2 linked regions of the Homo sapiens genome follow. The protein of the gene in region 1 purifies or fractionates together with the protein of each later gene. This does not show direct contact. Each region holds a gene or a part of one and is shown in the gene's direction. Other genes may lie near its edges.

Evidence for each region.
Region 2: the proteins of ELFN2 (region 1) and KCMF1 purify together in Homo sapiens (affinity purification with mass spectrometry; one large-scale study listed by BioGRID and IntAct). This does not show direct contact.

The regions. Positions count from the first base shown.
Region 1 is NC_000022.11:37,378,731-37,382,546, reverse strand, and holds part of ELFN2 (protein phosphatase 1 regulatory subunit 29 precursor), read left to right. Parts: intron 1-187; exon of another isoform or gene 188-437; intron 438-1,582; exon of another isoform or gene 1,583-1,678; intron 1,679-2,236; exon of another isoform or gene 2,237-2,315; intron 2,316-3,816. UniProt on the Homo sapiens protein: Inhibits phosphatase activity of protein phosphatase 1 (PP1) complexes.
Region 2 is NC_000002.12:85,047,450-85,051,265, forward strand, and holds part of KCMF1 (E3 ubiquitin-protein ligase KCMF1), read left to right. Parts: intron 1-1,916; coding exon 1,917-2,199; intron 2,200-3,816. UniProt on the Homo sapiens protein: E3 ubiquitin-protein ligase which accepts ubiquitin from an E2 ubiquitin-conjugating enzyme and then transfers it to targeted substrates, promoting their degradation by the proteasome.

The DNA.
Region 1 (3,816 bases):
AAAAAGGCCAGCGTGGTGGCTCACGCCTATAATCCCAGTACTTTGGGAGGCCGAGGCGGGCGGATCACAAGGTCAAGAGATGGAGACCATCCTGGCCAACGTGGTGAAACCCCGTCTCTACTAAAAATACAAAAATTAGCTGGGCGTGGCGGCATGCACCTGTAGTCCCAGCTACTCAGGAGGCTGAGGCAGGAGAATCACTTGAACCTGGGAGGCAGAGGCGGCAGTGAGCAAAGAAAAGGAAAAAAAAAAGGAGAACCAGTAGCTTTAGGTGGGCGCTGAGAGCCCTGTTACTGGAGGTCTGCAGGTGACGGGACATCGTCTTCCAGGGAGGAGCCTTGGAAAGTCTGCTGGTTCCACTAGCTCAGGCTGGCCTGGGTTCTTGGCTGTGTGGTCTTGGGTGCATCACTGCACCTCTCTGAGTTTCAGTTCCTTGCCTGTAAAATGGGAGGCATAAGGACGGCCGTGAAACTAAAAGGAAGGCTCGGCACATTTTGTGCCCCATCATGAGCACCCCATCACAGGGGGGGCTTCTCCCTCTGATATTGAAGATTCTTTTTTTTTTTTTTTTTTTTTTTTTTTTTTTTTTTTGAGACGGAGTCTCACTCTGTCGCCCAGGCTGGAGTGCAGAGGCGCGATCTCGGCTCACTGCACGCTCCGCCTCCCGGGTTCATGCCATTTTCCTGCCTCAGCCTCCGGAGTAGCTGGGACTGACTCAGCCGAGTCAGGGGATCCAGGATCTCCCCACCATCCCTAGCCTGGAGCTCTCACTCCACACAGCATGTCCTGAGAACCCGCTGTACGTCTGACCCTGTTCTAGGCATGGGGGTTACAGCAGTGAACAAAGTTAAATCCTGCTTTGCTTTTCTGCTGGGGGTGGGGCAAGGCAGGGCGATGATGAAGAATTAAGTGACGTCAGGTAGTGCTGGCTGCTGTCAGGGGACCGAAGCCTGGGTTGGGTGAGGAGTGAGTTATCTCAGACTGGGGGGCTAGAGAAGGTGGGGGTCAGGGGCAGGGAGTGGTTGAGCAGAGATCTCAGGTGGATTATGGGGATTCTGGGGGAAGAACATTCCAGGCAGAGAGAAGAGCAAAGGTCCTGGGGTGGGGAGTGTGCCTAGGGGTTTGAGGAGCACAGCTGGCCTGGAATCAGTACTTCCTGATTGATGGAAACATCGAAATCTCTCGAGGCTTGTGGACAACTCCCCCTTGCACGCTTTCCTCTGACAGGGGCAGAAAACCCAGTAGACTGGCTCAGTGCATGTCCCGCCCCTGCCATGGTCCCAGCCCTTTGGAGGGAAGCCGGGGAGGAGAGAGCCTCTGTCTTCTCATCTGTAAGATGAGGCTGACAGCACCAGCTGTGTGGGGTTGATATAAGATTCGAGGAACATCAAATGTCAGACACAAAGGAGCATTGGATAAGGGGTATATGACTGTCTTAGAGGCCAGGAGACTGAAGCCCAGAGGAGTTAGGTAATGTGCCTGATGTCACACAGCTCAGCATTCAATCCCAGGACCCTTCCCCGCACCATCTATGCCCTGCAGTAAGGGCTCATTGTGCTGGAAATCCAAAAAGTTAACTTACCGAACGGTAGTTCCATGGTGAAGGTATAATCCTCCCATTTTACAGACAAGGAACTGAGGCCCAGGGAGCTCCATGACAAGGGAGCTCCAAGGAGCTCTAGGCAGTGAAAAGACTGGTGTTCAGACCCCCGGCTTGAGTCTCTTCCCCGGGGGGTGGCAGGCTTTGTCCCTGAGGGCAGAGTTCCTGTCCTGGTGCTAGGGTTCCAGCAGCAAGGGGTGAGGCAGCTGCCTACCTGAGAGATCTGGCTGGGCCCCAGGAGTCCTTGGTCCTCCTAATCCTCAGTAATGGCAATGACACGGATGGTGACAATGACACCTCCGGGAGCCTTGGCCAGCCTGGCTCAGGGAAGAGCCTGTGCCAGGGCTTATGAGCTGCTGCAAATGAGATTTCCCTGGCCGAGCCTCACGTCCCTGCTCCTGGGAGGCCAGGACACAGACTGCGCTTCCCCCCACCTGCTCCTGGAGCTGACGGGTGTCCCTGCAAGAGTGTGGCCACACAAGCGGGAGCCTGGGGTGGTGTGTTTGTGGGGCCTCCTGCCCTGGACTGAGCGTGTGTGTCTCTGTCATGTCTGGGATTTCGGGGGAACTCTGGAGCTGGGTGGTACTCACCTTGCCACACGGGGAGAAACAGGCTCGGAGAGGGCCTGCAGCTTACCTGGGTCTCAGAGCTGGTTGGGCCTGCATCTTCCCTGCTGACCTCCGCTGCCTGCGTCCCCAGCTGGCCTCGCTCTGTTCACCCTCTCACCCAGCCTGGGGAGTTAGCCCAACCCCCCTCAACCCCTCCCACACGCCGCAGTGCAGTGGGGGCTCTCCCCGGGTCCGGGGTCCAGACGCTCCCCTGACAGGGAAGCTTGGGAGTCAGCCTATAGCGGGGGGCTGAGAGGATGTGACCCGGAGGTTCAGCAAGCCTGAGTCCAGGGGAACCCTGATCTTGGGTGATGAGGGTTGTGAAGAAATAACTATAAAACCCCCATTAACAACAGCGGCTGTCATTCACAGAGGCCAGGCGCTGTGCCAGGCTTGCCCTCCGAGGGGGGGCAGGGGTGGGACTGAGCCAGGACTCCTTGTCTTCTCAGTTCTGAGTCCAGAGAGGGGCCCGGGACCTAGGAGCACCCGGGCGGAAAGGGCACAAACCCAGCGGGATCACTGGGCAGCTGACTAACCGGAGAGGGGAGGCATTTGCTGAGAGTGACTTTGGGGTCTGTGGTCCTGCCCAGCTCTGAACTGAGACCCCTGCACCACCAGCTCTGCCCTCAGAGCAGCAAGTGCTGTGAGGTCTCACTGACTCTCCTCTCTGCCCATGAATGTCCCCATGAGAGGGGACGTCCTACAGCATGCAGCCTGCAGACCGGGAGCCCCCGATAACAGCATGCACCCTGGCTGTGCAGCTGTTTCTTCTGTGGTGGAAGGAGAGAGTGCCCCTTAAAGAGAGCTGGTGGTGGGGCACTTGGGGCCTGAAGGGAGAAAAGCTCTAGGGGAGGGGTCCAGTCAGGCCAGGGCACGGGAGCCCTGCTCTTTGCTGGAACATGCCACCCCCCAATGCCTGCTTGCCTGCATGGCTGCACCCCTCCTGGGCTGTGCCACCGGGCTCTGGGCAGAAGAGGCCTCTGCGCCCCACAGCTGCTTCCACTGCTCCCCTCTCCCTCTGGGCTGGTCACAGGCTGCATTCTCGTGGTTCAGCCAGACCAGGTGTCAATTGTCTCCCGGGCCTCTGGGCTGCGGGAGGGAAGCAGGTGCCCGTGTCCCCTGCGCCCCCCATCTATCATCTAGATAGCTCACTGCCGTCGGTGCCTCTGTCTCAGACGCGCTTTCTCCTTTTCTCTCCTCCTCTGTCTGTCTGCTCGGCTGTCTTGATATTTTTGCTTTTCCACCATTCTCAGTCCTCACCTCCTCCCTGCAGCACCCCCTTCTTCCCGTCTCTCACCACCTGGGTATGTGGGGTGCTGCCCTGTCCCCCCTGCTGTGTGTGTGGGAGGACCACCCTCATGGGAGTAGGGGAGGGGCATGACCTTGGCCATGTGACCGCTGGACCCTTAGCCTCAGACCTGAGAGGACAGGCTGCTGCCCCCACCCCCCACACCTTGAGTGCGTGAACAGCTGGGCTAGGGGCCAAGTGCTGCTGTCAGCGCCTTCTCTGCCTTGGCCTCTCTGTTCCCTCCCTGGCCGCGTCAGGTCTCCACGGGTGGCAGGCAGGCAGCCCGGGATGGGGACCGGGCAGCTGACGCCCCTGGGACA
Region 2 (3,816 bases), on another chromosome or scaffold:
ATCTATAGCTAATTGAAAAGACTAAAGAATTAAGCTCTTCTCATGGAAGAAAGGAAAGTAGGACTTAATGTCCTGACCTTGATTTGAGAACTATATTGTTGTAGAACATACTGAAAGGTACATGTTTAATAGCTTGGGAAAAATCTTAAAAAAAAAAAAAAAAACACAGTTTTTGAACCTGGCCATGTCACTGAGTCTAGTACATGACAAACCTAGGAAGTTGGTAGCAGAACACAGGGTCAAAATAAAATACAAGAAATCACTGTAGCCTGATAATCTGCAAGACACACCAAGCAGACAAGTGGTAAGACAGTGGGAAGTGTGCACACATTTAAAGCAACAATTCTGAAATGTGTCCATGTGGTGAAGTGTGCACCTACCTGGAAGCCATGAGCACCCTGCAGAACACCTGAAACATTGATAAGTGTAAATCTGTAATAGAAACTGAGAACATCAGAGCTAAATGACAACTTAGGAACACAAAGGAGGAGACAGCAGACACTGGGGGAGGGTAGCAAGAGAGAGAGGAGCAGAAAGATAACTGTTGGGTACTGGGCTTAATTGGGTCCTGGGTGATGTAATAATATGTATGACAAACCCTCGTGGCAGGTGTTTAACTGTGTAACGGACCTTCACATGTACCCCCAAACCTAAAATAAAAATTTAAAAAAGAAAAACAACCTAAGAACAATTTTATACCTATCATGTTATTTAAAAGTTAGATATACCATATAAAATTTTAATTCCAAATGTGCTTTGGACATTTGTGTGTGCAACAACAAAAACAAGCCTAATAAACTGAGTTTGGGGGATTTAAAAAATATTTCTTCATCCAAAGGGAATATTTACCTGCTATTTTGGTGGCAGGCACTAAAAATTAAAGTAGTTTCTGGGAGCAAAATTCAAAATTGAGAAATTTTCTTCATTTGATTTTTTTTCTGTCAGTGAAAATTAGTTTATTTTAGTGATAGACTGTATATTCCATGAAAGAGTGGTATAAGAGTGCTATAAAAAGCCTGGGATAAAGCAACAGTGAGCAAGAAAACAAACTGTTAATGAGTTTTAATGATAAAGAGTTTTTGCTGGCCTGAAAGTGTCTGCAAGGCAGTCATCGATTCCCTATAAGCGAGGTGGACCCTCCACTTGGAAGAAGGCATTTCACTGTACCTTACTTAGATGAGGATGCGGGGACAAAAGTTTACACCTCTCTTAATGAGTACAGCCTTATGGACACAAGACAGTCTGGATCATAACAGGCCACTAAGTAGGCTGTACAGTCAGATGCAGCAGGTTCTCAGGAGCCAGTCAGCCTTGCTGAGCACTGGTAGTGGTATCTACTGCAGTGGTACTCTGAAACAGCAGTACCAGAAGGTACTAGAGGGAGAAAGCAGAGGCAGAGAGTGTGCAAGGGCCACCATCAGAAATGATCCAGGCCTCTTGGACTGAATCCTAATAATTCATTCAGTCATTCAGTAAATGTTTGAATTCCTGCTATATCAGGCCCTGTTCTGATAGCTGGGAATATAGTCAACAGTAGACCTCATCCCTGCTTCCATGGAACACATATTGAGAGAGCTTATATTATAATTGGGCCCACAGATAAACCACTTCATTAAATACTAAGAGAAAGCTTCACTAAATTAGTCTATTATGCAAATAATTTTAAAGACAATTTAAGTTTTACTTCAAACATAATTCAGTCTGGGTTAATATTCGTATGCATTTGCATTCTCTGTCCACAGTAACTCCTGCCTTCAGGAGGCATTCTAGAAGGATTCAGCTCTTAAACTGTGTGCTGTGGTGGTTACCTACCTGTTCACAATGCTTTTGATGTTGTTCCAGTAAAAGAGTGATCTGTAGCGTTTTGTTTTCCTCAGTATTAAGCAGACATTAATTGTCTTCATTTCCATTGGCAGAGCTTTTATCTCAGTTATCAGGAGTGAGACGTTCTGCAGGAGGACAGCTTAATTCCTCTGGCCCTTCCGCTTCTCAGTTACAACAACTGCAGATGCAGCTGCAGCTAGAACGGCAGCATGCCCAGGCAGCACGGCAACAACTGGAGACCGCACGCAACGCAACCCGGCGTACTAACACAAGCAGTGTCACCACTACAATCACACAATCCACAGCAACAACCAACATAGCTAATACAGAAAGCAGTCAGCAGACTCTACAGAATTCCCAGTTTCTTTTAACAAGGTAGCTCATTTGTTAATAGAATTTTGTTTGGGAAGTAATATTTTATTGCCACTACAGTCTGGAATTATCTTTTCTCTTTTGTGCATTATATTTCTTTAAAATTTTGTGTTTGATTAAAACTCACAGATCTCTGATTAAAACGCATATTCAGTATTTCCCCAAGAATGTGAAACATAGTAATTATTTTAGATAAATTAAGAATACTGGGCCAGACCCAGTGGCTCACACCTGTAATCCCAGCACCTCACACCTGTAATCCCAGCACTTTGGGAGGCCAAGGCAAGCAGATCGCCAGAGCCCAGGAGTTCCAAACCACCCTGGGTAACATGATGAAATCTTATCTCTACAAAAATGAGCCAGGTGTGATGGTGCGCACCTGTAGTCCCCGCTACTCAGGAGGCTGAGGTGGGAGGATCGCTTGAGCCCTGGAGACAGAGGTTGCAGTAGCCAAGATTGCACCATGCACTCCAGCCTGGGTGACAAGAGTGAGACCCTGTCTCTAAAATAAAATAACTGGTCTTGTTCTCAAGGTATATATCATCATATAATATGAATTGTTTTGCCATAGTACCCATAAAACTTAAACACTATATCATTATATATATATGGTTCATATTAGGTGTATTTATCATAATTAACGTTGCTTGTTATTGCCAGTTTTAATCTGCTTTGAAATATTAAAAGTATAAGAAGGATTTCATAATACAGTGGCAGTTTTCTCCTGTGAATTTCTAAAAAAGCTAGATTTAAATTTTTATGGTTGGCACACAAAAGTAACTTAAAAAAATGGCTTCCTATGGTATAAATAATATTTAGTAAAACAGTAAACTACTCTACTAGATGGAGTTCTTGTTTGCTTCTGAAACTGTTAGCAACTGCATGTATTTGTCTGCCAAAACTTCACAGGCATTTTATGTGACTTTTAGGAATATAAAGAATTCTTAAAAGAGCAATGATGAGTGGAGACTTAGCCTCAACAGATAATGAACCTGGACTAATTGGGCTTTTAAGGGAGCAGAGAGGAACATAAAGGAAGAACTGTAAAATGAAGAATAAAGTTTGTGTAATACATGATTATTTCCAAAATGCAGTGTGTATGACAATTCATTGGGATGTTAGAGGAAAATATTATAATTTCTACTTATGTTTCTTTTATCTCATACTCTGTTAATACAGTGGTGCATGTGTATAGTTATAAATAACATATTGTGGGTGCAGAATAAAAAATGCTTGAAAATCCCTGGGCTAGAGCCCCAGCTTTGCCAATTACAAGTTTTGGACCTCAGGCAAGTCATTTCACTCCTCCAAACCTCAATTTTATCATCAGTATCCCAGAAGTTTTGCCTTTAGAGAGATAATTATTTTGAGGATTAAATGGAATACTGGTATGTGTATGGTCTGGCTCACTATCTGGCCTATAGTAAAGGTCCAATTAATGGTACTCGTTATCAACATTTGTTATGAAACCAAGAAAAACATTTTAAATGGGTAATTTACCTTTGAATTATCTCTGCAAGGTCAGTAACTGTGCCTGGTTATTACCAGATAATGCTGCTTTAATGTAAGAAAACCACAGAGCCACAGATGGAGCTACCTGCTGCCATGTAGCCTTCCCCA